4 linked regions of the Homo sapiens genome follow. The protein of the gene in region 4 interacts with the protein of the main gene of each other region in a pairwise test. Each region holds a gene or a part of one and is shown on either strand. Other genes may lie near its edges.

Region 1 (7,765 bases), on a different chromosome or scaffold from region 4:
CTTGTGAAAGCAAATCATCAGATAAAGCATATGGCTGAACAACAACAAAAAGCCTTTTAAAATTAGTTTTGTTCTTCATTCTTTTCAACATTTGTATTTCGGGAGACTTATTAGGTGTCTGGGATATATAAAGTGAAAAACAGGAATGAAATCTTTGTAGAGATCTATAGAGTCTACATTCTAGTAAGGGAAAGAGAGATAATGAAGAAATATAATATATAAAGAGATTACACATTAGAAGTTGAGAAGTGCTATGAAAAAAGGGCCACAGTGTGTGCTGGGTTTATGAGGAAAACCTCAGTATTTGGGGTAAGCAAAATAAAGCCTTTGCTAGGAGTTAGGTTGTAAAGTTAAGAGGTAAATGAAATCCATGTGGGAAGAAACCAATGGTACCACGTGCTAGCTTATGACCCTGAGCATAACTTGTGAGCCTCAATCTCCCCGCCTGTGAAGTGGTAAAAATATCTATGATTTAGAGGTATTGCAAAAACCTATGAGATTGTGAATATAAAGAATAGTGGCTAAAAACATATCTTAACTGGCCCAAAACATCCACTTTACCCATCATTCACATTCTTGGATAAAAGAATTAAAACATTAATTAGGATATAAACTTAGTTTTGTGTACCGAAATGTCTCAAAAAATGACAATTCTTATCATTATCAGTGATATAAACTAAACTTAAGAAAAAAACATGTATTTCTTCTTTGAAATGGAGGACATTTCCCCCAAACTGTTAATTTTTCAACAAGAGGGAAAAAAAAAATGACAGGACACAAATTTTTTTTTAAAGACTTATTTCAAGCAGCTAATTATTTGTTCATTTGTTTAACCATCCCTTGGGACAATCTGTAATCTACTCTGATAAGAAATGTGTAGAAAACAGACCTGACGTTTTGTTGTTGTTCAATTATTAGGATACTCAATGTTTGAGCTCACACAAGTATCCCTTAGGGAAATGCTCTGCGTGCCATTAGCACTATTCTTAATGAGGAAAAGCACAGAACTCCTTTAGTTCATTGCCAGAATTGTTTTATCTTCAAGTCAAAAGAACAACTATTTGGAGTAATACCAAAACAAGCATTTAACAATTACAAGCAGCAAGCTATTCATAAGCATCATATTGTTAATGCTAATCCAATTATAAATAACCTTATTTTATCAAATAAAATATCTGTCAGCAAAATTTTCGGTCCTAGACACCTCTTTACTTGACTGCTTTATTCCTTAACTTTAAGAAAAAACATCTTTATTGCTTCAATTCAAAGAATCTCATTTTAAAGACTTTTTACAGAAAAGATACAGAAAATCCTTCATTATTTTAATCCATGAGTAAGTTATCTTCAAAGGAAACTTACAAATCATAAACGAAGGCCTAAAAGAGACCACTGTGCTTATAATAATCCTCAATGATACAGTGAAGTAGGAAAATCTGAAGATCTATCATTCCCATTTTCTTAATGTCCTATCTTTCCAAGAGTACAGCACTTCCTTCCTGCATTAGGAAATAATCTACTGAATATTTCCCTTTCACCTTTTTCTCTCCATTTCTCTGTTCTGTAAGACAATGTACAGCTTTCTAGGTTGCTTTTGGTATCATTATCTATATGGCCTTGGCCCTTATTTAAACTCTTTATCTTTATACTTCACTGATGCATGAGGACATACAAAATAGAACTACTGGGCCAAATACAGCAAATCTGAAATGTCCCATATGTCCCACAGATATTTGGGGAACTTGATGTTGTCACAATTAGTAGAGCCTAATCATGCACTAATAAGGAATTGAGAAGTCTAAACATGAAAAACTTTTTCACACATGAGGCACCAACATTTTGGGGAAAATATGTGAATTTTTATTAAAATACAAGTTTTAAGCAGACTGAAGTCCAAAGTGAGAACTACTGTGATCAGCTTTTATTACATTTATTAACTGTCATGAATTTTTGCAAGATAGGCATACTACATGATGATGTGATAGAAAAAATGATAAAGATTATGGAAGTTATTCAAACTCTTGCCTTTAGTCATTCAGGTTAATAGGATACTTAGGAAAAGCTGTAGAATTGGATTTCTGTTTAATACAGACATTTAGACTGTACTGCTGCTTCAGTTCAAGCACTTTCCAGAAACTAAGAGACCTAACTTGGTCCCCCACCACCACCAACACTACCACCCAGTAGCCCTCAAGATTACACACGCATACCTAACTTATGTATAGCAGGACTACTCTGTCTGAAATATTTTCCTGCTATGAATCTATCTGTAGTATGGTCACAGCTACTATTATAAAGATATTCTCATGTTTTCTGCCAAGCTTGATTTACCTTTTACTTCACCCTTCTTCCCACCAGTACTTCTGATCCTGTCTCCCACTCCAGCCAAATCTGTCACACTTTACAGGTTGTGCCACTTTACAACAAACTAAATTCATGAAGTCATCTTTATTGTGTGTGCTATTATTAAGAAATCAAATAAACCCCTGATATTAATAAATTATGATGGCAGACTGTATTTCATTTGGTAATATGTTATAATGACTCCTCACAGAACTGTTTTACACTTCAGTTTCCAACAATGCACCCTCAGTTTTAACTAATGTATGCTGGTACTTTCTCTTACCCATATTAGAAGACATATCAACATTTCTGAAAAAACAAGTGCTGAAATTATAAACGTTTAGGCTAAAACTGGGTATTCGTATTAAGCAGATACCAAATAAACTCATTTCCCAGTCTTCCTGCAAATCTTAGGGTACTGATATTGAGCATTCCTAATCCAAAAATCCTAAATCCGAAATGGTCCAAAATCCAAAACGTTTTGAGTGCTGACACGATGCTCAAAGGTCATGCTTAAAAGAAATGCTCATTGGAGCATTTCAGGTTCCTGGATTAGAGATGCTCAAGCAGTAAACTGTGAATATTTCAACACTCAAAATCTGAAACACTTCTGTTCCCAAGCATTTTGGATAAGGGATACTGAACCTGTATCTGAATTATCTAGTATCTGTCCTATCAATGAACCCACATTAGAAAAAGAAGAAAGAGGAAAGAACCAAGCACTTTATACATTTATTCAATTTATTTGAAAATAATGATAACCACCAAGATCCAGTATACCCTCAAAATTTTTTTTTTTTGAGACGGAGTCTTGTGCTGACGCCCAGGCTGGAGTGCAGTGGTGCGATCTCGGCTCACTGCAACCTCCACCTCCCGGGTTCAAGTGATTCTCCTGCCTCAGCCTCCGGAGTAGCTGGGATTACAGGCGCCCGCCAACGCACCTGGCTAAGTTTTGTATTTTTTAGTTGAGTCGGGGTTTCACCATCTTGGCCAGGCTGGTCTCGAACTCCTGACCTGGTGATCCACCCGCCTCGGCCTTCCAAAGTGCTGGGATTACAGGCGTGAGCCACCACTGAGATGTGCCCTGTCTGAACACATCCTACATACTCAAGAATAAAGTTCATCCTATTAAATCTGTGTTCTCAAATACTTTATTAAAATCAATCAATGACCATCACTACACTGTTAAAAAAAACATAAAGCCAACTTGCCTTTGGATTACTTCTATATTACTACAAAGTTGCAGTTCTTTAAAAGCCAGTATTATTATTTCATCAGGTGTCACTTAAAATTCATGCAACTCACATGTTAATCATGTAGCACACCATTTAAAATATATATTACCCTGAAACAAACCTAGACTTACCTGTAGTAATGGCTCGATGGAACTGATGCATATCTTCCCCTGATAGCTCTTGGGCTACCTGGAATATCTTTTGTCTGACACCATCCAATTTAATTTCTGATTCAGTCAATATATCTTCCATATCAGGAGCACTATGATCAAGATATTGGGAACTTTTAGAACATCAGATGCTTTAACAGTGAAAAACTAAAATAACCTAATTATCAACATAGGGCTAAATATTGTATGCATTCATATACTTCTAACTCAAAACTACTCAAAACTATTCATAGTATGGAGAACATGAAAATGTTATTAACACACTGTTAAGTGAAAAAAGTATACAAAAATTGTATGTTTACTATAAGAAAAATTTTGTTCATAAAAATATGATATATGGATAAATGTCTGCTTTCAGTAAGGGCAGAGTAACGTGGACTGGATTTATCCTCCCTCCTTAAACAACTAAAAAGAAAAAATAAATACAGAAAACAATGGTTACAGACACTGGACTACAGGCAGCATGGAGCAGTGATCCCTGGGGAAAGGGAGGAGAACAACATATACCCTCTGACTGCCCCATCTTATTGCCTGGAAAGCTTCCAAGTGACAGTACAGAGACAGGAAACTTAGGTGGAGCCTGGGAGTCAGCCTGAGTAGAAAAGGAGTTGGGAGTTTTGGGGGATCGAGACAGCTAAAATTTGCAGAGCAGAGTAACAATGAGGAGAAAGCTGTATAAACAGAGAGCTTCAGAGATTTATAGAAGCAACCTCCTCAAGTCTTCAGTTGAGTACTGATCAGTGCAGGCATGTGAGGAAACTACCTAAGGCTGGAAAAAGAATTGCCCAAAGTGAGCAGGCAGAACAATCCCCTTAGTTCACAGAGCCGGAAAGAATTGATTTATCATCAGCAGATTGACACTACAAAAAATATTAAAAGAAGTTCTTTAGGCAAAAGGAAAATGATACCAGATAAAAATCTGAATCTATACACAAAGGAATGAACATTTACAAAAATTGGTAAATGTGGATAAATATTTTTCTTATTTTTAAATCATACTGTTTAAAGTAAAAATCATAACATATTGTGGAAACAACAAAAGTAGAAATAACATGAATCACAACAGTAGCACAAAAGGCCAAGCTAGTAGAGGGGAAATGGAAAAGGAAGTATAAGATTTTTATACCATACGCGAAATGATAAGTAGTCCTTACTTTGCATGGTACTGTGTTAACTGAAACTTGGGCACATCAAAACTGTGACCTTCACTGGCAAAGTAACTGTTACCAAAAAATCATGCAAAGTGAAAAGATTCTTGTATGCACAAATTTTAGTAAACACAGTATTGTACAAAGTGAGAATAGTTGACAATAAGATATATATTATGAACCATAAAACAATCACTACAAAAACAAAACAAAAAAGGCATAGCTAATAAGCCTACAAATAAGATAAAATGGGATCATAAAAAATTATCCAAAATAAGGCAGGAAGGAGAGAAGAATAGATGGTAGATTTAATTATAACCATAGCAATAACTGCATTAAATGTAAACGGTCTAAACACCTGCACTAACAAGCAGAGATTTTCAGAATGGATTTTTAAAAAGCAAGAGAGACAAGAAATCCATGTTAAATATAAACACAAATAGATTAAAAATAAAAGGATGAAAAGATATACGTTCTAATAACAATCAAACGAAACAGGAGTAGCTATATTAACATCAAACTTTGGGCAAAGCCTATATCCAGGGATACCATCATAATGATAAAGGGTCAATTCATTAAATGCATAACAATCCTAAATATTAATGTACCAAATAAAAGAGCTTCAAGATACTTGAAGAAAAAACTGATAGGACTTCAAGGAGAAAGTCAAATCTACAATTATCGTCAAGAGAGGTCACCCTCTTTCTCTCTTAATAACTGATAGAGCGAGTGTACAGAAAATCATAAGGAAATAAGTGACGCGAACACCACTATCAGCCAATCTGACTTAATTACACCTAACAATAACAGAATACACACTCTTCAAGTGCACACACAACATTTACCAGATAGACCATATCCTGGGCCAAAATTAAGGCTCCATAAATTTAAAAGGATTCAAATTATAGAAAGTATGTTCTCTGACCACATGAAATTAAATTAGAAATCAGTATCAGAAAGTCGTCTGGAAAACTCCCAAAATATTTGGACACAAAATAACATACTTAAATTATTCTTGGGTCAAAGGTGAAATCAAAATGAAAATTAGCACCAATAAATTTCAAAACTTAGAGGAAATGGCAAATTCCTTGAAAGACACAAACTACTGAAGCTCACTGAAGAAGAGTTATCTATGTCTATTAAAATAATTTTGTAGTTAAAATACATGAGGTCCTCTCACAACAGTTTTTCAGCTGTACTGTGACTGGCTCATTTCTTTCATAAAGTTTTTTTTTTTTTTTTTTTTTTTTTGAGACAGAGTCCTATTCTGTCACCCAGGCTGGATTGCAGTGGCACAATTCTGAGTTCAAGCAACCTCCGCTTCCTGAGTTCAAGCAATTCTCCTGCCTCAGCCTCCCGAGTAGCTGGGATGCCACCAAGCCCGGCTAATTTTTATATTTTCAGTAGAGACAGGGTTTCGCCATGTTGGCCAGGCTGGTCTCAAACTCCTGACCTCAAGTGATCTGCCTGCCTTGGCCTCCCAAAGTGCTGGGATTACAGGCATGAGCCTCCACATCCAGCCTCTTTCATGAAGTATCTTTACTTTCCTGAAGTTTCTAATATTTCTAAAGTTTCTATTTTTTTCTTAAGTTTCTTATTTTTCTGAAGTCTATTATTTTCTCAGTTTACTAGTCAAAACTGTATGAACAGTATGATCACAACTATGATAAAAAACAGTGCACAAAATAAGAAATCTGCTAGTTGATAGAGGCTATCTTTGGGTACTACAGACTGATTTGTCTCATTAAGTAGCTTTACCTTTCTGCCATTCGTAATTTTTCTAAAGACTACCATTTTCTAAGTTTACTATAATGAGCATTTATTTTTTGGTGGAAAAATATTTAAAAGATGACTTCACACAGTAACGCAGATTTTTCTAAAATATTAAGGTCTCCTGTCATATTCCTATTACAGGTTGAGCATCCCTAATCTGAAAATCCGAAATCCAAAATGCTCCAAAATCCAAAACTTTCTTAGCAACAAGACACTCTAAGGAAATGCTCACAAGAGCACTTCAGATTTCAGATTTCCAGATAAGGGATGCTCAACCCATACATTATCTGCAAGTATTCCAAAATCCGAAATCCAAAACACTTCCAGTCCCAAGCATTTAGGATACTCAATCTGTATGTTTTTCTTTATATTATTGCTTTTGTTATTTATATTACTGCTGAATACTGATGGCAATTGTTTTAGAATTGTAATAAGTACTAAAAAAAAGTGTCCATAATTAATAAGAACAGTATTGCTTCTTTCGATAATACAAGCCTTATTATGTACAAGCTATCTAAGAATGATATGAGAAAACAAGCAAAAACTAATTTTACACAGTCAGGTAAGAAAAAGAAAATGTTAACAGTGCCATATTTCAATAAATCTATGTATGGCAAATTAGATTCCATTTAATGAAGTAAAAATTAAAATGTGAGAATTATCTTAAAAGTTTCATGTTACTGAACGGAATACTTCAGTATCTTTTTTTTTTTTTTTTTTGAGACAGGGTCTCATTCTGTCGCCCAGGCTGGGGTACAGTGGCACAATCATGGCTCACTGCAGCCTTGACCACCTGGGCTCAATCAATCCTCCTGCCTCAGTCTCCTGAGCAGCTGGGACTACACTTGCATACCACCATCTCCAGCTAGTTTTTTGTATTTTTTGTAGAGATGGGGTTTTGCCATGTTGCCCATACAGGTGTGAGCCACCATGCCCGGGCAATAATATCTTCAATAACGAAAAGCTAATAAATTATATGTGATCTTCCCTACATTCTTTCTGTGACATATAGTATAAAACCAATCACAGCTACCCTTCTGGAGACATCTGGAATTTGTAACAACAATCCGTCTTCAGAAGCTGGACTAAAACACGTAAG
Region 2 (7,765 bases), on a different chromosome or scaffold from region 4:
TCGTTTGAGGCTCATAGCAGGTTCGGGGCCAATGGGTGGACTCCCAAGACAAGCTATCGAAGCACTGGGCACTCAGCCCTTCCTGCACAAAGCCCACTGGCGTGAGTTGTCCAGGGGTCCAGCTGCATATGTTCCCCCAGGTATTTGCCCCCGAAGCACAGTCATCTCACTGCCTTGCATAGTGGAATGCTAATCAGCAGAAGACCCTTCTATGGGAGGCAGCTTGGAAACCTGGAGGAAGCCCTGGCTGAGGAGGCTAGTGGTCAGGGAGCCTATCCTGGCCAGGTCACTTTTCCCCACTGGGGCCTCGGTTTCTTCTTTGTAAAGGGAGAAACTTACATTAGGCATTTCCTCAGGTTCCATTTGGTTCTCAAATTCTAATATTTTTATGGTTGATGCTCTCACCAGAGCTGCTGCTATGATCTCAGAGACGTGAGGCTCAGATCTAATTAGAAGCAACCGGAAGAGAGCAGTTGGGATTTTTCAACTCAGGAATCAGTCTCCCTGCTGGGTTCAAATTCAGGCTCTGCCACTTACTAGCTGTATGACTAAGCCTTGTTTTCCTCAACTATAAAACAGAGATAGTAGTAGTTACCATCTTAAAATAGCTGTTGTGTTGTGTGGATTTCAAGGATCATGCAAGTCAAGCATTTAGCACAGTCTCTGCTACATAAGTGGTCAGCAAATTTGAGGTACTATTCAATTTATGGCTCTATTGTTTGGGGCTTCCAAATGTCCAGAGTAAGGCCATTTTCGAAGTAGGCAGTACATCTGAGAGCCTTAACAGCTCATTTCTGGAAACCTTATCCAGCCCTATCCAGATAACTAGGACCAAAAACCCCAGCACACAGATGCTCGTCCCTTGCTTCAACCCTCACTGACCTCTACTCTGTGGCTTGTCCTGAAAACATCAAAGCCTGCTCAATTAAAATCCTGAATGCCTTGATAATACAATTTAGAAACATACATAGTTTTTAAATAGGGCAAAAACTCTGCATGATTAGTGCTGCAAGAAGATATCCAGCCCAACCTGGGTGTTCAGGGAGCGCTCTCTAAAGGCAACAGAAATCTAAAGTAATTTAAGAGCCATGCCACTGAATAAAAATATTCAGGTTCATTTCCTGTCCTTCTCTCTGTTTGGGATCTTTGTGTGTCTTTAATTAAAAGTAGGAGAGCCCTGCTTTTGGGATTCAGCCTCTGCATCCCAGTCCCAGATAGAATTTCTGACTCTAGCAGTTTTGCATGTGCATGACACACCAAGGACACTGCTCCTGGCCTTGAATGGGTAAGTGAGACAGGCTAGGGCATTGAGGAGAACCAGAGGAGGACCATACAGGTGCAGCTGCTGGGCTTGTCAGCGGGGCAGGAGAATTTAGGGACAACATCACTAGACCAAGGCCATCTCAACAGAGAATTGCCTAGAAGCAAATAATCCCACACTACAGGGGTGGCTGGGTTAGAAATCCTCCATGACCGAGTGCAAGCATGCAGAACTTTCTGAAAGGGCTGAGCTTCGGATCTCCAGAATAGTCATAGCATAGGTGAGCTATGACTCAACCCCATGGCTATCAGATGCTTTTTCTAAGGCCACACGGTGAGTTAATAGGGTACTGGTTAATATAGGGCCAAACATGGGAATGTTCCCGATAGTCCCATATTTGCTCCTAGATCAATGAGCACCTCAGGGAACTTATGGAAGCAGAGTGTACCTGATGAGACTGGGTTTAGGGTTTATTGGTCAGGGCAGCATTTTCAACCTAAAGATATGGGAGAGTGACAAGAGACAGACAGGCATAGAGAAGCAGTAGCCGTGTTGTCACATAGTCCTGAGCCCAAGGGGCAGGCCTTTGGCAAGTCATTTCACCTTGTAAATGCTAGTTTCTTTATCTGCAAAAGGAGAATCCTGATGTATAGAAATGTTTGTGCTTTGGTCTTTACCCATCTTTGCATCTTTGCCTGTCCCTTTAATTCTATAATGCTCTCCCACCCCACCCCTTGCTGCCTTGTCTAATAGTTAAAATTCCACCGACATTCCAAGACCTCACTCAGCAATTTCCATATTCAGGAAGCCTTCTCCAAGCCCCAGAGAGAAGTGATTTCTCCCATCTGAATTCCCATATTCTTTTAAGGTGTACATTTTCTTATGACTCACAATCGCGCTTGGAATTAGACAATCAACGGAGGTGTTAACCCCCTTTCCCCACCACCAGAGGTCAGGGTTCTTGGGGGTAGGAGCTCGTCTAACTCATCCTTCACAACTCTCTGCTTGGTTCTGTGCACATAGTAGGTACTTAATAAAAATTTTCCTAGAGTAAACTATAAATAATGGAATGGTTGGCCACTCTCCATTATTTGCTAGAATTGCAGACCCTGCAGGAAAAGTTAGCTTCCCACCGGAATTTCAGTTACCAGCCCTCTGCCAGGAATGAATTCTGTTGTTCGGTCTGCTGGCTTTGAATTGACTTTGTCCATGAAATGTACCGAATCTGTTTACCATTTAGCAGGAAAGTGCTGAGAACAGTGATTCTACTCCCACTCCCTCATAATCACAAAGGTATGAGGAACCCACACCCAGCACCAGGCACAGTTCTGGTCCCTCAATCCCAGAAGAAGCTCAATGGAGCTCAAGATAAACAGAAAGAGAGAGATGGAAAAGAATGGAAGACAGAGGAGAAGGACTTACTGCCTAAAATCAGTGGGATTGTTTTGACTTGGTCTCTGGAAAAGGGCCAAGGCTTAGACCTCTTTGTCTGCCTGGAAGGGCCTTGCTCCATGAATGCTTTGTAAATCTGTAAGTGAATAAGTGAGCATATGCTTTAACAAATAAGTGAAAAGATGAATGATTGAATGAATGGGGGAAGCAGTAAAGGAGTGAATGAATGAAGCAACAAATGAATTATCAACTGAATGACAGAAAGAATGATCGAATAAATGACCACATGAATGAATGAATATGTCCATAAATGAATGAATGATGAAGTGCCAGAACAGCTATAATTAACAGCCTATCTTTTCACAAAGAGCATTGATAGTCATCTCCCCAAAGTTGAAAAATATAAATTCAGTCAAGAAGAGTCCTGGTAATTTTTTGGATACTGGTAGGTGTATAGTGTCTTTGGAGAAGGTGAGGAGATGTCTCTAAGTTTTCACTCTTTTGCTGAAACAAAAGCAGGGACTGACTCACAGTGATTCCCCTTGTCTTCCCTTATATTTCAGGTTCGTTCACCCTTGCCTGGGTGAGATCAGAATCTGTATATTTATCCACTCATTTATTTGTTCACTTAGCCAGTCCCACAATTGTCCTTCAGCATTGCTTCCCTGCCTAAGATCCACTCTGGCTTCCTCATCCTCCCTCTTCCTCCATCTCCTCATTCACCTGGCCAACTCCTACTTATCTTTCAAGGCCTCATTCAATGCCACCGCTCTGGGAAGCCTTTCCTGGCTTCTGTAGGCAGAGCACATCTCTGCCTTCTCTCTTTCCCCATAGCTGCTGCTGCTTCCCTTAACTACAATTCTGAACACACTATGAGGTTGTCATTATGGGTTTACACATTTATCTCTCTGACTAGCTTTCAGGCACTGAGTCTTATCCCAGGGCCTCTGTCAGGCCTGACACTGCATCCAGGCTTGATGGATGCTGGCGGCATGGAGGTAAGGATGGATGGGCCAGAGTGTGCGTTCTTGATGGCTCTGAGCGGTGTGAGAATGCGGCGGTGCAGATGAGGAATCCAGGTCTGCTCCTGGGGAGAAGCTCTGCAAAATTCTGCATAATGGCCGTGGAGCTGATGTTCCCATTCATCAGGCAGGGAAGGAACAGTTTTTAGAAAAGAGAGAGAGAGCCTAAGAGTCCTAGGGCCTTCAGAGAAACATCTCTTTAAATGCTTCCCCTTCCTCCGGGTAGTATTTTAAATAGGTCACCTTCTGGAAGTAGTGGTAGTCAGTTGGGATATTGCTAGCTTCCCGTACCCCAGCCATGGGAGTAGTACTTTGGATTAAATCTTGTTATTCAAGGCCAGACTAAAAGCCTCATTGGTGCGGTGGGGGGAAGTAGGAACCACATTCCACTCAAATCAGGAAGCTAGAAGTAGGATTGCATTATGGCTATGAGCACCGCGTTAAAATAAGAGTCTTGGGATTGAACTCCCTTTCATTGGTTCATAGCTGAGCCTTTCCAGGCCTCAGTTTCCTCTTCTATAAAATGGGGACAGTGGGCCAGGTATGGTGGCTCACATCTGTAATCCCAGCAGTTTGGAAGGTCAAGGTGGACAGATCACGAGGTCAGGAGTTCAAGACCAGCCTGGCCAATATGGTGAAACCCCATCTCTACTAAAAATACAAAAATTAGCCGGGCATGGTGGCATGCTCCTGTAATCCCAGTCACTCAGGAGGCTGAGGCAGGAGAATCGCTTGAACCGAGGAGACGGAGGTTGCAGTGAGCCAAGACTGCACCATTGCACTCCAGCCTGGATGACAGAGCGAGACTCCGTCTCAAAAAAAATAAAAATTAAAAAATGGGGACAATGACAGTGTCTCCCTATAGGGCCACGTGAGGGCCAAGAAGGAATTGAACATGGTGCTGCACACCAGGTGAGTTGGCAGTGCTGGCTTTGCTGCTGCCTTTTGTCCCATCTCAGGACAGGCCCCTTCCTTCTGCCTTGCTCCACTTGGATGATGACGGTGTTACCCTTGGTAATCTCCCCATCCCTTTGAGCTGTGGCCTCTGATTCCAGCCCTCTGAGATCCCGAGCCACCATATCCATGGTCACTGGCATTCTAAGCAGTTTCTCTGGTGATTCCTAAGGGAAGCTGTCAACTTTAGATGGTAAAAGCAATTCCCAACAGTGAGGTATGAAAATGCAGGTCACCCGCCAGGAAGGATAATAATACTAGCTCAAATGACTCTGGCCTCCACCCAGTGCCAGGCACCTTGCTCGGCTCTTTCCTGTGTTATTTTATTAACCCCAACCCTGGAGGACAAGATGCTATTACAGTTCTCATTTTGCAGTTGAGGAACCTGAGGCTCTAAAAAGGGAAGTGCCTTACTAAGGGTCATAGAGCTTGGGAATCGCAGAGCCTGGTTCTGGTTGATCCCAGACCCTGAGCTTCTAACTGCCATACTAACCTCCTCTCCTCCTGGCTTTGCCTCTGGAACCTTAGGGACCTGAGTAGAAAAACAGTCAAAACGGGTGCATGGATGTTGGGGAGAAGGCATTCAAGGATAGACTGAAGCACCTCATTAGCCACACGGAACAACTGAGCTACGTGCAGGCCCTGAGCAAAATGCTTTTAGCCCCATCCCAACCCCGCCTCCCCCTAGATCTGTTTCCATTTCATCTGACACTGTGGAAGCCTGAATATGAAATGATTGGGGGCAGAAGGCCAATTAGCAAATTCATTAATAGGATTAAACATCTCTCCTCTGCTCTAATCATTTATGTGAACTAAAATTTTCTCTCTTTGTTATAGCCATCATTGCCTGTCAGTGAAGATAGAGTGTTTAAATATCTTCCAAGTATGTTAGAATTGCAAACGTTCAGAACCAGGGACCAGGATCAGAGTTTTCACACGGTCCAGGTGGGCAAGGAGATCAGTCGGTTTACAAGTGGTTATCACTGCTAAGAAAAAAACACAAGAACTTGCTAGTACATTTGCAAGTACCTTACTGCTCATCTCCTTTCTCTCCTTAGCCACATGTTGGCCCAAATCACCTGCGTATGTTATACGGTTGTTATGAGCATACACTCCTGGTTAGGCAGACCTAGAATTCAAATCCTGGCTCTGCAACTCATTAGCTGTGTGACATTGAGCAGGTTACCTCGCTTCTGTGAACTTTCATCTCTACATAATCTAGAAAATGAAAGTATTGTTGATAATTCCCTCCCAGGTTGTTATGAGGATTAAATGCAGTCATGCATGTAAGATGCAGCGGTCAGCACTCAGAATGCGCTAAAGGTAAATTGTTACTATCTGGGTCTACTCCACTTAAAGTGTGCTCCTCCAACCAACAGCCTCAGCATCAGTTGGGAGCTTGTTAGAAATACAGAGTCCCGGCCAGGCGCGGTGGCTCACGCCTGTAATCCCAGCACTTTGGGAGGCCGAGGCTGGCGGATCATGAGGTCAGGAGATAGAGACCATCCCGGCTAACACGGTGAAACCCCGTCTCTACTAAAAATACAAAAAAATTAGCCAGGCGTGGTGGCGGGCGCGTGTAGTCCCAGCTACTCGGGAGGTTGAGGCAGGAGAATGGCGTGAACCCAGGAGGTGGAGCTTGCAGTGAGCCGAGATCGCGCCACTGCACTCCAGCCTGGGCGACAGAGCGAGACTCCATCTTGGAAAAAAAAAAAAAACCTCAACTCAGTGAGACCTACCCAGTCAGAACCTGCATTTTAACAAGATCACCAGATGGTTTATATGCCCACTGGAGTCTGAGGAATACTGGCCTAAAGTACAGATTATGGAACTATGTGTATTGTATTACACAAAATTATATATCAAGCCAGAAGAGGCTTTTGCTAAGACTTCTGATTTAAGCCTCATTTTACAAATAAGAAAATAGAATCCAGAGAAGGTGAGTGGTTTGCCCACAATCACACAGCTCAAGTGTTAGGCCTGACATCCGAACCCCAGCCCTGGTCATCTCATATAAATTGTTAAGAAGTCAGATTTCCAGATTTGCATTTCTGCAATCAAGCTTGTCTGTTTTTCTTTCTCTCTCTTTCTTTTTAACAACAAAGAAGTGCAGGATGATGTACGCCCATTAAGTTTTAGTTTACTCATTTTAAATGTTATTCCAGCCAACAGAGATCCTGAATCTTGACTCCACCAGCCATCATCTTAGCTGTACCTCCAAGTTTTCTGCTACCTGAAGAAATGATAAGGAGGCATTCTAGGTCTTTATCTAAGTTGCTTCTAAGAACATGGGCCAGAACAGGGTGCAGGACAGAGCCATGTGGACTGCAACTAGAGACTTGCCTGCATAATGGATTTCACTGATAATGTTCAGAATCCCAGAGCAGGATGGCAGCCTGGTTTACATACAGAGCCTTTGTGTGGGATTTGAAGCCAGAAAATGTGACTAAAGTAGGAGTCTAAACAGACACAGGTAGGGCCTGGGGAATGAAAGTCAAATGCCTTTTCCAGGGGGTCTAGTAGGACCTCTCTGTTGGTGGGGATCCCCCAAAAAAGTAATCTTTTTATTTTTGTAGGAGTCCTGTAATGGTTTCATTATTATTCTCACTTTGCAGAGTAGGAAACGTAGATGCAGGGAGGTTCTTGATTGGCTAGTGATTAGTAAGCAAGGACTTGAAGTGGATCTGATTGCGAGGCACTCCACCACCTGGGCTCCTGCCTGCAGCTGGAGGGCATATCCAGGACAAGCAAGCCTCTGAGCCCCAGGAAGAGGCTGAGCAGTTACAGCTAGTTTCCCAACTCCCAGGAACTGAAAATGACAGCCTCCTCTTGGCCCCATCAGCTCCTCACCCATGCCAACCCTGGACCCAGAGTGAGGGATGTTCTGGTGGAGACCATGAAGCTCCCAGCTGCCTGGGGGAAGCTGGCACATTTGCATCCGTGTGGCTGAGGCTGCACTTTCTCTCCATCTCTGGGATTCGCCCATGTATGACTCTCCCAGATGTCCAAATTGTGCACTCAGCAGGGGTGTCTTCAGGAGGCTTCCCCACCCATCGAAATCAGGGCAGCAAGGGGCTCCCCTTGTCTTCTTCCCTCTTTGCATACATCCAGCCCTGGGCTGATTAGGACTCTAAGC
Region 3 (7,765 bases), about 48 Mb from region 4:
TGCTAATTAAATGATATAAAGCAATATTTTTCTATTTGGTATTTTAATCAGAAAAAGTTTTAAAAATGTATTTCTTTCACTTGTGTAACATTACATAAGTATACACGAAGTGGAATGTCTTAGATCAGCCCAATCTAGAACCAATACAACTTGTAGACTCAGACAAGCCAAAACAATACCACTGCAGTAGAAATTGTACCTTTTATGGGACTGTTCTGTGTAATGTTCAGGGAAAGTTTAGCTTCTGAGTAGTGTACAGTGTTGAGTTATTGTCTATGTTGTAGACATTGCTGACCAGAGATACGCTACACTCCCCCACCCCTTTTCTAAATGTTCTGTTGTGGGAATCTGGGTTCTTATCTGGATACAGGAGTATCTTTTCTGGTAAAAAAAAAAAAAAAAAAAAAAAAAAAAAAAAAAAAAAAGAGAGAGAGAGAGAAAAAGCCCTCTTGTGTACTTTTTCTTTAACTGGGAGAAGTACATATACCTTTAACAGGCCAAATAATGCTGTAATTAGCAAACTGTCAATAATTATCAGCAAACACTCTTCTCTGAGCTTTTTATGGTTCTTTCACCAGATGCTGTCATTCCTTGAGCTCTATTCAGTGCTTTGATTTAACAATTACTCTTTTTGTTCAGAAATTGCTTATTTTGGGAACAACATATATACATTTGCATTTTTAAATGTTAATTTTTCTTTCTGGATGGAAAACAGCCAGAGTTGAAACAAACTAGCTACTTAGAGTTATAATTCCATGTGAGGGTACAATTTCATGAAGGCCATAGTTTCTGGCCTAAGGAATAAAAACAAGGTTGAAAAACAACTTACCTTCACATAGAGCTGCTGAAATTCCTCGAGATTTAGCCTCCCACTTGGACAGTCCTTGAGAAATCCTTTGTACCACTGCTTGAGTTCATGCTCATTAAACTCTGTGCTCTTCACCAGGTCCTCCATCACTTCAGGGGCCAGTTTGCTATTCTGCTTCCCCATCCTGCCTGAAGAAAAGCAAATTAATTCAATTAGCGCTGTGGCTGTGATCATTTCAAACTTGGTTAGGAGCCAAGCTAGAGTTCTGAGCAGTCCCATGGTCGGAACTCCCTCCAGTGTGGCTGATGCATATCTTCCCAAGTCTGCCTCCTTCTACTTGGTATTCTAGAAAAATATATGAGTGAAATAGACTCTTCTGACAGTTCCAAGGGCTGTAGCATTCACTCTTTACCTCATTGTGTCATCTTTCATATGGTGTTGACTCCCAAATGGAAGGCAACCATCCCTTTTTATGCTATTCATAGTAAGCATATAGAAGTTGTTTTTCTTTTCCTTCTACAAATTACACTTTATTAACACTTGCCTCCCAGGTGTTTAACTCTACATTTAGTTTAATGGGATACTCAGTGGGATTACTGACAAGAACAATGAGAAGACTTTATAACTAAATGATCAGTAAGTGGCTTGGAATATCCAATCAGCAATATTAAGGAGTCTCAGTTGGTCTGGTTCAAGTTGGAGCTTTTTTCCCCAATAAAAACAGCTATTTCTATTAGTCACACTAATTCTCTATTTCTCCTCTCATAATTAGAAAGTTCGTACAACATTGTCTTCAGAGTTGACAAAATCTTAATGGTTTTCTTCTAGGGATTGGTTGGGGAGTTTTTGTTGATATTATTCCAGACTGCTATTATTTCTGATTTTGAGTTAAAGTAATAGTGCATAAGATAATGTTACCTATATCCATTAAGCACCAGGTTGTGTGGCCAACATCACAGCAGGGAGTAGGGAGACAGAGCAGGCTTGAGATAATTCCTGATTTTTCTTCCTGATTTGGCCAATTACTACATGTGTTACTTAGGGCAACGTTAATTAACTGCATTATCTTCAACTTATTCATTAATAAAGCAGACATAATAATGAAGCTCTTTCAGATTCATTGTGATGGCTGATTAACAAGTAAGTAGGTAAACAAAGGCCAAAAAAAATTCCAAAATTAAAATAACTGCAGGAAAATTAAAGATAATTTTAAAATTTTCCCTTTAAAGTTGCTTTATAATAAATAATAATAAGACTATTGCTAATAATAATAATAAAAGAATTAACACATAAATTAACCCCAGATTGATTTAAAAAGTCAAGTTAAACTTGAAAATTGGAAAATTTCCAGAATCTGGAAAGTGCCAGATGATCTTTCAAATTCAGTTAAAAGATACTGAGTTAGGGTTGAAGAATTAACCAAGTGAACCTAGTCCTTCACTGTGCTTGAGACAAACTCTCTTTCAAGCTGCAGGCATGTCTACACTTGCAATAGCCTGGAAGGGGTAATCTCATCACATACTTTATTGTCATGATTTTTTAACTTCTCCTAAAACAGATTCCACACCCATTGTCAGTAACCTGCCCCAACATTGGCCAATTCTTTCACTGTAATGAAACTAAGCCACTCTTGCTACTTCCAGGGAAATTTCCACTCAGCACAATCTCGGCAGCACAAAATGCAGTCAGATGATACCATTAAGATGGCCATTTACCCTCCAAACTCGTCAGCATGAGAAAAGGGCCCAGTATCAGCAACTCTTCCCTTTGTCATGGGGCTTCTCTACTTATTTTTGCTCTGAATTCAAGTTCCAAATCTCTTATAAGCAACTGTCTATTAATTATAAGTTACTGTGGAATTCCACAGCTGGGTGTGGAAATCAAGTGGGTACTCAGGTGTCAGGTTTAATTAATGTGAGTAAGAAAACTCTAATTCATGGTTATCCTGAAAATCAAAAGATGTATTATTGTGAAACCTTTCAGTACTTTACTTTGGTTTTTTGGTAGAGAATTACAAACCTTCATTCTTAAACTAGAATCTCACCTAAGAAAAATAGCTATTTAATATTGAGTGCTGGCGATGGAGAAGGCACTTAATGGAACACCTCACAAATTTCATCTCCTGCTCAGCAATCACCGAGCAATCAGGATTAGGGGAGCTCCCTGGGGCTCAGAACGCTTATGGTAACTTGTATAAGAGCATACAATTAATGCATGGCGGAGCTAGAATTTGAACCTGGATCTATAGGACTCCAATGTCCAATCATAGACTGGTGGATGAAAGACATTTCAGGAGAAGGAACAGGAAGAGCGAAAGCAGGGAGGCTTCAGAGAACTGAATCAGTGCCTAGAGGGGATGAAAAAGGATCACTTTGCCAGCCTGGCTGCCTTGTTTGGAAAAGACTTAAATTTACCAAACCACAAGCTCAGAAGTGACTTTGTATTAAAAACCACCTCCCCCAAGTGCCTTTAGAAGTTCAACAACGTATCAGCTTCTTTGTTAGGCAAGGAAGCTTGGCTTCTCCATGGGTCACTTGTGATGTCTTAAACTGTTCCAGTTGACTTTGGAGAGGGTGGTCTCTTACACACACAGGAAATATTGTCAGGACTGTGAATCACAGTTTGGAGACTCAAGTGCATAACTTCATGCTTCTTGTATGGGTCTGCACCATCACTCAGGTGTGTTGGGCAATGGTTGAATCACACAGAAAGTCAGGTTCTGGCCTGGCTCAGAATGGCATTGCCACTGCCCTCATAGGCCTCATCAGATCTTGCCTTGATTAAAGATTGGCCTCCCCACTGGGCTACCTGACTCCAACCACTCTCCTTCTGCACAGCTGCCTGAGTGAATTTCCAGAATACAAACCTCATTGATCTACTCTCTAAAAGCCTCTGTACTTCTCCTTAGTCTCCATGATGCAACCTCATCTCCTTAGCGTGGCTCAGGTCCTGCCTACTTATATCCTCGTTTTCTGCCAATCTGTCTTTTCTCATGTGTCAGTGATTATAAACTATTATAGATTCCAGGATTGCATGCTTCCACACTTCCATGGCTCTGCATATGCTGTTCTCTTCTCCTAGAATGACTTCCCCCCATTTTCTGCTCAACAGACTTCTTCCCCTTCTTTAAATAGTCTCAATTTACACACCACCTCCTCCATGAAACCTTCGTGGACTCTCCATGGCAAACTTAGGCACCCATTCTCTTAGGTATCTCCCTTTCCTTGTAAAAGCTTCCATGATCATTATGTATTTCTCTACTGGATTGTTATTATGGTTTCTTGAGAGAGAGGACTATTATTTATTTATTTTTGCCTCTTGGTAACTCCTATTAGGTGCTCAAATAATATTTCTTGAGGACATGAATAAATAAGGGGTCTGAGATATTTGGTATTTTTTTTCTGAGAAAATGTCTCATAATCTATATATAAGGAGAGTCAATGCATTCACAAGTATAAATATAAAATGCAGTTGGCAGATGGGAGAAATATTTCATTTAACTGCATGGAAAATATTCAGCCCTCCTGGAGATTGTCTTCATCATTAAAATTGAATACCTTGCAGGTGGGACCCATGTCTTTTATCTCAGTATCTTCAGTAACTGACATAAAGGTGGTGTTTAGTAATGTGTGATAAATGAATGAAAGTGTAGTTAGATTAATACTCTCCACCTATAGTCCTTTTGCTCTGGGCTGCAGTGATATGGGCCAAGCAGTATCTTTCATTATGGGACCAGCATAACAGAAAGAGTACAAACAGTACATTTTATCACATTCCCAATAAAGAGATTCCGCTACACCATATGAGGGGGAAGCAGGCTGGCTCTGTCTCTAACTTACTCTGTGATCTTGGCCAAGATCCTTTCCTTCCTAGTTACTCCATTTCCCCATTTAAAAAATGAGGAGTTGGACCAGATGATCTTTAAGGCCTTTCCAACTCTACCATTCACTGATTTCCCACATAGGTTTTGTAAATATGAAAATATGAGTCAGACCTCCTATTGGCTTGTCTCAACACATGCAGGCTCTGTGGATTCTTGACCTGAGAACCCATCAGCATTTAAGTGTTTATTACCGAAGAAGGGAGGGGACAGAAACCGGAGTGTATTACTTTTAAGCTGGGATTTCAAGCTATAATATTAAAGCCAGCCCATCCCCAAACCAAAAGAATTTCTCACTGCTTGTGTTGTCATACAGAGAAGTTCAGTGCTAGGCACAAAACAGGACTGGTGGAAGGGCTTTGATGGACAAGAGAACTTCAAATGATAGAGCCCTTGTGGAGGAAAGCACAGTTTCACTTAATGGCAAATGATGTCCAGAGAAGATGGCACTTTTGTACACTAATTTACAAAAGGCTTTTGTGCAACAACATTGACCCATATAAACTATTGACCCCTTTTTTACAGCATTAAAAACAGTATTTTTAAAAACTGTAAAAAAGAGATTATGATTGTTTCCTTTTTACTGATGAGAACTTTGAAGGCCAGAGAGATTAAGTAATTTACCCTAGCTAAACCAGCTAGTAAGGGCTTAGTAAAGAATGCATGCAGTTCTCTCGCACCCCACTGCTTTCCTAATAGAGGCCATCATCTTCTCTCACCTGCAGGATCATCTCAAAGATACTGCAACTACCTCCCAACTGGTCTTCCTGTCTTGAGTTTCGCTCATCTCTCATCCATTTCCTACCCTGTCTTGATAGCAGGTTCCAGAGCAGAAGAGGCAGAGGATTTAAGAATGCTCCTAGAAGAGGACCAGGAGAACTTCGTGGATGTGGAAAGGGCCTACAAGGGAGCCAAGAAGCACCCATGAGCATCTTTTTTCCATAAGCCCTTTGGGTATTAAAGAGGATTGAAACAAAATATATGTGTGTGTGTGTGTGTGTGTGTGTGTGTGTGTGTGTGTGTGTGTGTTGCCCTCAGCCTGTCTCTTACCTACTGTATCTAAATCCAGTCTTCCAGAACATACCAGGGTCTGCTGAGTATGAAGAGGCACACAGAACTGCATATCCAGCTCCTCCCAGGTAATCTAGCAATCAGCCTAGCTGAATCTTAGCAAGATTCATTTAAATAAAAACTGAGTGGCTGAAATGGAGCAGTCCCACCACATGTGCAAATACATAGCAGGATAAACACAGCAGTGGGAAAACAACCTTGGAAATAGGGCTGAGAGCAAAGGAAGAAAGGGCTTTAGGGGCTCAGGTTGGAGACCTGCATGTAATGCAAGTATGGAAAGAGGCTGCAATGGGCTGGTCAGTGACAGATTACTTAGGTCAGTCTTGAATAAATCTTTTCTTTGAGCCCTAGGCTCTTCACTCATATCCTGAAACAATTGCCTTTGTAGAGACTGGCCTTCTCATGCTTAGACTTCTGCCTGGAATGCCCCTTGTGCTTTTTTCCTCCATCTATCTAAACCTTACTCCTGCTGCAAGACTCCATTCCAATCCTGTTTTCTCCATGATACTTCTCTGCCAACTGTTACTACTCCTCTCTTTTCCTTGTATTTGATATTGTGGTTAATAATGACCCATGGCATAATTAACTTGACGGAATCAGGCAGAAAACTCTCTGCACAACTAAGTTTGGCAGATGTTTGTAAGAATCTTCCAGGAGAAAAGCTCTGTGCTAGGTAAGGTGGGATATAAACAGAAAGCATGGTACCAATCTTAAAGGGCTCAGACCTGGATGCAGGAGACATTTACAAGTCTTGGAATATGAAGCATGATGAAATGAATACTCATAGTAGAGAGCTACATAACACAGAGGATAGACAAACAGACAAATACTGACCAAATCAGGCACCTTCACCTGTCACCGGTCCCCAGGTGAAACCTCTTAAGCAGTCTTTCCTAAACTTGTCTGAATACAAGAATCACCCTTGGTTCTTCCTTAAAAATACAGCTTAGTGGGTTGATCCCTTGCAGGGAAATCTGTACATTTAAAAAGCAACTCAGGGGAATATGATCATGAGTCAACTTGGGAAATGCTGCTGGAAAGCATAAATAAAAATCGAAGTACATGATCTAAGAAGCACACCCCAAACCAGCACAGACATAACCCAAGGTCTCCCTGATTCCTCACTAACCCCATCTGGCATTCCTGATGTGCTTTCAAGATCCTTGTACTGGGGACTAGCATTAAGAATTCCAAAATTGGCCGGGTGCAGTGGCTTATGCCTGTAATCCCAGCGCTTTGGGAGGCTGAGGTGGGCAGATCACCTGAGGTCAGGAGTTTGAGACCAGCCTGGCCAACATGGTGAAACCCTGTCTCTACTGAAAATATAAAAATTAGCCAGGTGTGGTGGTGGGCACCTGTAATCCCAGCTACTCGGGAGGCTGAGACAGGAGAATTGCTTGAACCAGGGAGGTGGAGAAGGTTGCAGTGAGCCAAGATCGCACCATTGTACTCCAGCCTGGGTGACAAGAGTGAAACTCTGCCTCAAAAAAAAAAAAAAGAAAAAAAGAATTCCAAGATCACACAAGGGAAGACCAAAGCTTGAAAAGATTTGCCTGTAGGCTCCTCTGCTTTAAGCCCTTTGGTTTTAGGTTGGAGAGTTTGAGGCTCAGGAAGGTGATGAATTTTCCCAGATCACATGGGCAGCTGATGGCAGAGCTGGGATGAGAAGCCCATCCCCCCACCTGGATGGGTGTCCCCCACTCCCCACCCCCACAGCATGCTGTCCCTGTGTCTAACACTCAAAGCTTGTAAGCCACTACCCATGTTTCTCTCTGTGCAAGGATGTTGAAACAACCCCCAGCACCACCCCCTTGGATCCTATAAACAACTGACACCGGATTGCTGGTTTCCAGAGACTGTTAAAAACAGCCTTGAAAACCATGCCTTAAAATTGCCCAGCATATTGTATGTTTTTTTTTTTTTTATAATGAAGGCAAATATCTGACACTATGCCTCTTTCTGTTCCCCTCTTCTTTGTCCTCCAGAAGCCAAGTACTCACAAGCCC
Region 4 (7,765 bases):
TCATGCCGGGCCAAAGCTGGACTGTACTGCTGCCATCTCGGCTCGCTGCAGCCTCCCTGCCTGATTCTCCTGCCTCAGCCTGCCGAGTGCCTGCGATTGCAGGCGCGCGCCGCCACGCCTGACTGGTTTTTGTGTTTTTTTGGTGGGGACGGGGTTTCGCTGTGTTGGCCGGACTGGTCTCCAGCTCCTAGCCGCGAGTGATCCGCCAGCCTCGGCCTCCCGAGGTGCCGGGATTGCAGACGGAGTCTCATTCACTCAGTGCTCAATGGTGCCCAGGCTGGAGTGCAGTGGCGTGATCTCGGCTCGCTACGGCCTCCACCTCCCAGCCGCCTGCCTTGGCCCCCCAAAGTGCGGAGATTGCAGCCTCTGCCCGGCCGCCACCCCGTCTGGGAAGTGAGGAGCGTCTCTGCCTGGCTGCCCATCGTCTGGGATGTGAGGAGCCCCTCTGCCTGGCTGCCCAGTCTGGAAAGTGAGGAGCGTCTCTGCCCGGCCGCCATCCCACCTGGGAAGTGAGGAGCGCCTCCTCCCGGCCGCCATCCCATCTAGGAAGTGAGGAGCGTCTCTGCCCGGCAGCCCATCGTCTGAGATGTGGGGAGCGCCTCTGCCCCGCCGCCCCGTCCGGGAGGTGAGGGGCGCCTCTGCCCGGCGGCCCCTACTGGGAAGTGAGGAGCCCCTCTGGCCGGCCAGCCGCCCCGTCCGGGAGGGAGGTGGGGGGCTCAGCCCCCCGCCGGGCCAGCCGCTCCGTCCGGGAGGGAGGTTGGGCGGGGGGTCAGCGCCCCCTCCCGGCCAGCCGCCCGGTCCAGGAGCTGAGGGGCGCCTCTGCCCGGCCGCCCCTACTGGGAGGTGGGGAGCCCCTCTGCCCAGCCACCACCCCGTCTGGGAGGTGTGCCCAACAGCTCATTGAGAATGGGCCATGATGACGATGGCGGTTTTCTGGAATGGAAGGGGGGGCAGGGTGGGGAAAGGATTGAGAAATCGGATGGTTGCCGTGTCTGTGTAGAAAGAAGTAGACATGGGCGACTTTTCATTTTGTTTTGTACCAAGAAAAATTCTTCTGCCTTGGGATCCTGTTGATCTATGACCTTACCCCCAACCCTGTGCTCTCTGAAACATGTGCTGTGTCCACTCAGGGTTAAATGGATTAAGGGCGGTGCAAGATGTGCTTTGTTAAACAGATGCTTGAAGGCAGCATGCTCGTTAAGAGTCATCACCACTCCCTAATCTCAAGTACCCAGGGACACAAACACTCTGCCTAGGAAAACCAGAGACCTTTGTTCACTTGTTTGTCTGCTGACCTTCCCTCCACTAGTGTCCTATGACCCTGCCAAATCCCCCTCTGTGAGAAACACCCAAGAATGATCAATAAAAAATAAAATAAAATTAAAAAAAAATCCTAAAAAAAAAAAAAAGAAAGTGAAAGATAAACCAGTGGGTGGTAATGTAACAGAGTATGAAAGGTCCATTGATAGATTTCAGATTCCACATGGTTGAGTTTTAGTGTAGTATCAAAGAAGAATATCTACAATTGTCTGAAAAGGCTATTAAAATATTTCTCCCCTTACTAACTCCCCTTCTCTGTGAGTAGCTGTATTTTCTTTATATACTTCAACCAAAATAATATATTACAGATTAAAAGCAGGAGCAGATACCAGAATCCAGCTATTTTCTGGTAAGCCAGATATTAATGAGATCTTCAAAAACATAAAGCCATGCCACTCTTCTCATAATTACTTTTGTTCTGGAAAAGTTATACAGTTATTTGCCATAAAATGTCATTTATATTAACAATACTGTTTAATTAAAAGTTTTAAATTTTTTCCATTTTAATTTCTAATATGGCAAGTTATAAATAGCTGTAACTCACCAAACCAAAAGCTCTCTGAGGTCCTGAATAAAATTTTGGAGTGTAAAGGGATCCTGAGACCAAAAAAGTTTAAGAACTGTTACTGTCCATAAATCTCTGTGTGTTTAAGTCTTTTTCTAAAGGATAGTGTTCTAGATGTGAACTGCTAGGTAAAAAGATATGCACATTTAAAATTAAAATCCTGCCAAATTGCTTTTCAAAGAGCTTTGCCAGCTCAAATTCCCACCAAATGTTATGTGAGAATGCTCGCTGACCTACACATGGGCAATGACTGGAATGATCAAACTCTTAGATTTTGTGATTAGTCTCCATAAAGAGGTTTCTCATAAGATTTGTTTCAGGAGTAAACTCCTCTAATCCATCTAAAAATGAGATTCAACTCAGAAAATTTTAATTTAAATATAATTTCTCAGGCTTGACTGTCCCCAGCTTACCAAAAAATTACCTGACTACTCGTGAATGGTTGTCTGGAACAGAGACTTTTCCCACAGAAACAATGGTAGTTAACAGCCCTCAATATGTAACGAAACAAACTCCCACAATGTGCTGAATTCTAGATGTGCACTACATTGTAAAAACTGACAACACTGTTTCTATCTGAAAGAGCACTTCATGCCCTAGTTGGAATACTGGGAACTCTGATACAATCCATCCAATATATCCTAAAAATAATCTTCATCTTTTCTTTGCCATTCCACCTTTTAGAGGGGGGTTCCTCAATAACTCACCACATTTGCAGAGCTCCCATGTGGGCGCATGGTCTCCAGTGGGCACTAGCATTGCATTAGAGAAGCTTGAGAGGCCAAAGGAAGAGTTATCATATCTCTAAGGAGAGAGAAAGGGGCGGGGTGGTGGGGGGGAGGGCAGTGAGAGAGAGAGAGGAAGGGAGACTGGGTACGGGCGTGTGTGTGTGTGTGTGTGTGTGTGCATGTGCATGAGTGTGCTGGGTATGGGTGTGAGGGGAGGGGTTAAGTACCACTCAGTACAGAAATCCAGAATTTCCTGGAGTGTGAAACAGGCAAGGTGAGGGATGGAGAGACAGAGAAGTACAGCAGGACATATGGGTGTGTGACTTAGGTACTAGTGAATATAAAAGCCCACAAGTGTGGAGTCAAGGAATGTAAAGGGGACAGGAAAAGGGGTGGGGAAATGGAGAAACATGATGGGGGAGGGGATGAGGCACACTTTTAGGATAGTGCAATCTGTGTACACTAGCAACAAACAACAGCAGTTGGTCCACGACTCAGCGGGGGCGGACAGAGGACTGGACTGCCCTAATATTATGCCAAGTTAGTGTGAAGGGACAGGCTTTGATTTTGCAAAGAAATGAGCTCAAACGCAGGCTCTGCTGGTGACACTGCCCACCCCATGCCAAGGACGTGGCTCACTTCTTAGAGCATTGAGTTTCCCCACTACAATGTGGAAATAGTAGTATCTTCCTCCTTCAAAATGTTGCAGGAATTTAACTGAGGTTATTTACTTAAAGGACCTGGAACAAATGGTAAAAGTTTACTATGCACTAGTAATGTCTTACCAGTGACTAGATTAGATAAGCTAAAGGGCCACTTTAGGTTGAAGTATTCTATGACAAACCATAGAAATACCAGGAAAAAGTAGCTCTAAAAACATAAGCCTTCAGACAAGATAATCTGGTAAAACACAGAATAACCCTAAAAACAAAAAGACCAAAGAAGTGGAAAAAAATTTCTATATATATAAAAATAAGAACTAAAAGGGCAAGCAACAGATTATAAAAATATACTTGCAGCAAATATGACAGATGGAGATTCATATCTTTATTATGCAAGAGGGCATACACATGAAGGAGAAAAATAAGGCCCTGATAAGTAAATATACAAAGGACATCAACAGATAATTAATTCACAGTTATAACTGTTTAACAAACAGAAAAACATTTTATTAATTAGCAAGCAATAAGATTTTATATGTATATTTTATATACATATATTATGTATGTATATTTTATATACGTATATTATGTATGTATATTTTGTATACGTATATTATGTATGTATATTTTGTATACGTATATTATGTATGTATATTTTGTATACGTATATTATGTATGTATATTTTGTATACGTATATTATGTATGTATATTTTGTATACGTATATTATGTATGTATATTTTGTATACGTATATTATATGTATGTATATTTTGTATATGTATATATGTATGTATATTTTGTATACGTATATTATATGTATGTATATTTTGTATATATATTATATATGTATGAATATTTTGTATACGTATATTATATATGTATGTATATTTTATATCCCTCAATGTGTTAAAGGAAATTCTAATACTGGTAGCAGCTCCTTGCACATGTATCAAAAGTCATAAAAATATGACCTCCTAAATTATTCCAAAACTATAATAAACGTGGAAAATTCACATAGGTGTATTCCTAACACTGAGGTGAGGGGAAGAACCTTAATATTTGACACTAAGGAGGTGGTCAAATAATGAAACATCAAACTGATATCAGCAACATGGAAAATTTCATATGAGAATGTTAGGGCAATGTTGTTTCATGATAGTCTTGAAAGAGAATGTTTAAGGCAAAATAAATAAGATACACAACTGTTTAAAAATATGGCTGGGCACAGTGGCATGTGTCTGTAGTCCCAGCTACTCTGGAGGATGAGGTGGGAGGACCATTTGAAGCCCAGGAGTTGGAGGCCAGCCTGGGCAACAAAGTGAGATCCTGCCTTTTTAAAAAAAAGTACAAAGTGGGAAAATTACATCAAAGGGCTAAGGGTGGTTGTTCAGTTTTGGGGTCAGAGTGACAAGAGAATCAAATACTGGTTCCAGGCCCCCAAAACAGGCCACTAAGAACAAGGAATCTTTCTGAATCATAATTTCTTCAATTACAATTATACAGGCTGCTGTAAGGATACAATGAGAGATCTAACCGAAGGGCTGGATTATACTTAGTACATGGTAAATGCTAGATAAATGGTAGTCATTTTACTTTTTATTGGTAATATAGTTACATTGCTTTTTATTGCAAAAATATTATAAACAAGAATGTTTTCATTATTTGACTATTATATAGGGTATTTCCTGAACAAATACTTCTTAAAATTAGCTGTCTTCTCCCTTTAAATTTTCAGAAATGAAATCAAATGTGAAAATAACATTTCTGTTAACCCACATGTAACATTTACAAATTGTTCTGTCTTATCTATTTTCTAAATTTTTTTAAACTATAAGAAGTGCTTGCAAAAGAAGGTTAAATTTGTACACTTAACACATAAAACCCAACAGATGCTGCTGTAAAGGGTCTCAGATGTAACACTGACATATTCTTGTGGTGTCTTTGCATTTTCTCTGTGGGATCCTGCACAATCCTGCACATTCTGAATCATCTGTTGGCTTCTGAGTATACACTCCATGATCAAATACAGATAGAAGTAGTGTTCTTCCATGTTTAGGGCCATGAATTTAAAACAGATTTTGGACATTCAATTTTCCTTCCTATCATAGATTCCTTCATAACATAGAACTGAACATTTGAGTTCCTCCATAAGACCATATATTATGAAGTGTCAATCCCCCACCCTTGGGAGGTGATGATTACTTTCCAAAGTATTTATCTATAAGCATGGATAATAATTTATAGAAGTATGGGCCAGGCACGGTGGCTCATGCCTGTAATCCCAGCATTTTGGGAGGCCGAGGTGGGTGGATCACCTGAGGTCAGGAGTTCGAGACCAACCTAGCCAATATGGTGAAACTCTGTCTCTACTAAAGATACAAAAACTAGCTGGGTGTAGTGGCGCGCACCTGTAGTCCCAGCTACTCAGCAGGAGAATTGCTTGAACCTGGGAGGTGGAGGTTGCAGGGAGCCAATATCATGCCACTGCACTCCAGCCTAGGTGACAGAGCGAGACTCCGTCTCAAAAAAAAAAAAAAAAAAAAAAAACCCAAAAAAACCCACAAAGTATGATACCACTACTTCTTGTTACTTTCTTTTTCCAAGCATGTTTTATTCATTAGGGCATGAAATAAAAGCTAGATAAACATTTATTTATAAGTAGCCTAATGTCAGATGACATCTTGCCTTTCTGTTTTACCTGCCACCATCCAAACCTCAATGGCATGCTCCATGAATAAACTCTACATTTTTAAAACACTGACTTCACAGCTCAGTACAATGTGATTCATAATAATAAAAGAGTACACTTTTGTTTTGAATACCTTTTTACAATGATAGACATCTTAATCAAAGATGCAAATAAAACAGCCAAATATACTTCTAAGCATCTCGGATAAAGCGTGTGGTCAAAAGAGACTTTGCTGGAAAGGACAGTCACGTTTTACAATTTGGCACCAGCTCCGGGGTTCTAACTTTTGAAGCTTTTGCAAGAGTTTGAAGTCAGAGAAAGAAAGAAAAAAATACGTTAAGGAAAGAGGACTATGATTTAACGTAAAGAAAGCAGTTGTTACTAATTTAACCCACGAGTTGTATGTCTGCCATTACCAGTTTGTCTTTCTGTCGTTCACCATGGATGAGAAAGCCGCTTCGTCCATTGCCTTCGGGGTGCATGACCTTACAGACCCCGACGCGACTGATCCCGCCTCCTTCCTGTGGGAACCATCCCCCGCTGGAGTCATCTCTGGTCATAACCACAGCCTTGACACGCACAATATAGCTGTCACTAAAACGACAAGAAGAAGAAGCACAGGGCATGACAATGGTCTGGTAGTTGCAGAACACGTTTCAAAATGCAAGATGACCACCAGCCAGCACTTTTTTTGTTTTATCGAAAGAAATCTATGCTTGGCGGCAACCTTAAAAAGTGGTCCATCTCAACTTTTAGGGAAAAAACAAAACACTTAAACTCAATATAAAAGTACATTTTAAAAAAGATAAGTAATTAAAAATTACTTGTGATCGAAAGATGTATACAGGCACAATATTCTCCAGTTTCTAGGTGTAAGTACTGATAAATGAATTGATTTCTGTAATTCAGTATCTTTAGGTTGGAAAGACACACACCTATTTTGGTTTTTAGTTGTTGTTTTTTTTTTTTTTTTTTTTTGAGACGGAGTTTCGCTCTTGTTGCCCAGGCTGGAGTGTAATGGCGCGATGTCGGCTCACTGCAACCTCCGCCTCCCGGGTTCAAGCGATTCTGATTCAGCCTCCCAAGTAGCTGGGATTATAGGCACCTGCCACCATGCCTGGCTAGTTTTTTGTATTTTTAGTAGAGATGGGGTTTCACCATGTTGGCACGCTGGTCTGGAACTCCTGACATCAGGTGATTTACCCATGTTGGCATCCCAAAGCACTGGGATTACAGGCGGGAGCCACCACGCCCAGACTACAAACCTATTAAGACGGTATTATGGTTTCAACCCTTTAAAATGAGTTGAAAATGAATGACCAAGTTTTAACATTTTATAAAGCCAAGAATCTCATTTAGCATAAAATAGGATAATCTACTTGCAAATCATAAATTCACCATGAAATCACGTATCTAGGTAGGAAAATATTTCAATTCCAATAACCCTTTACATATTTGTAGACTTCTGTTTATGATTTTATTTCTTCCAGTCTAAAACCTCAATTTCACAATAAGTTCTTCTGCACATTTGCCAAAAATCCTTTTTCTCCCCCAGAGACCAATTCTAGCTTCTTTTCATTCTTCATCACTTTTGGGGGAAATTTATTTGGATTTTTGGCAAGGCCATTACATTCTCACTTGCTGTTTTCTTTCTTTGGATAGAATTCATTTTTACTCATTCAAACATATATTTGCGTGTTGTATATGCCAGGCGTTATAACAGATTCTCAGGAAACAAAGTTGCAGAGTAACAAAGAACCCCCATTATTCCCTGGGCCTCAGGGAAGACGCCCTCACCCTG

What was found.
Region 1: the proteins of SPRED2 (region 4) and TSNAX interact in binary tests that used the Homo sapiens proteins (3 or more experiments, as listed by UniProt).
Region 2: the proteins of SPRED2 (region 4) and KCNIP1 interact in binary tests that used the Homo sapiens proteins (3 or more experiments, as listed by UniProt).
Region 3: the proteins of SPRED2 (region 4) and VSNL1 interact in binary tests that used the Homo sapiens proteins (3 or more experiments, as listed by UniProt).

The regions. Positions count from the first base shown.
Region 1 is NC_000001.11:231,538,553-231,546,317, reverse strand, and holds part of TSNAX (translin-associated protein X), read right to left. Parts: intron 3,838-7,765; coding exon 3,707-3,837; intron 1-3,706.
Region 2 is NC_000005.10:170,506,719-170,514,483, forward strand, and holds part of KCNIP1 (A-type potassium channel modulatory protein KCNIP1), read left to right. Parts: intron 1-7,765. UniProt on the Homo sapiens protein: Regulatory subunit of Kv4/D (Shal)-type voltage-gated rapidly inactivating A-type potassium channels. Regulates channel density, inactivation kinetics and rate of recovery from inactivation in a calcium-dependent and isoform-specific manner.
Region 3 is NC_000002.12:17,585,301-17,593,065, reverse strand, and holds part of VSNL1 (visinin-like protein 1), read right to left. Parts: intron 997-7,765; 5' UTR 992-996; coding exon 830-991; intron 1-829.
Region 4 is NC_000002.12:65,338,339-65,346,103, forward strand, and holds part of SPRED2 (sprouty-related, EVH1 domain-containing protein 2), read right to left. Parts: intron 6,559-7,765; coding exon 6,381-6,558; intron 1-6,380. UniProt on the Homo sapiens protein: Negatively regulates Ras signaling pathways and downstream activation of MAP kinases. Recruits and translocates NF1 to the cell membrane, thereby enabling NF1-dependent hydrolysis of active GTP-bound Ras to inactive GDP-bound Ras.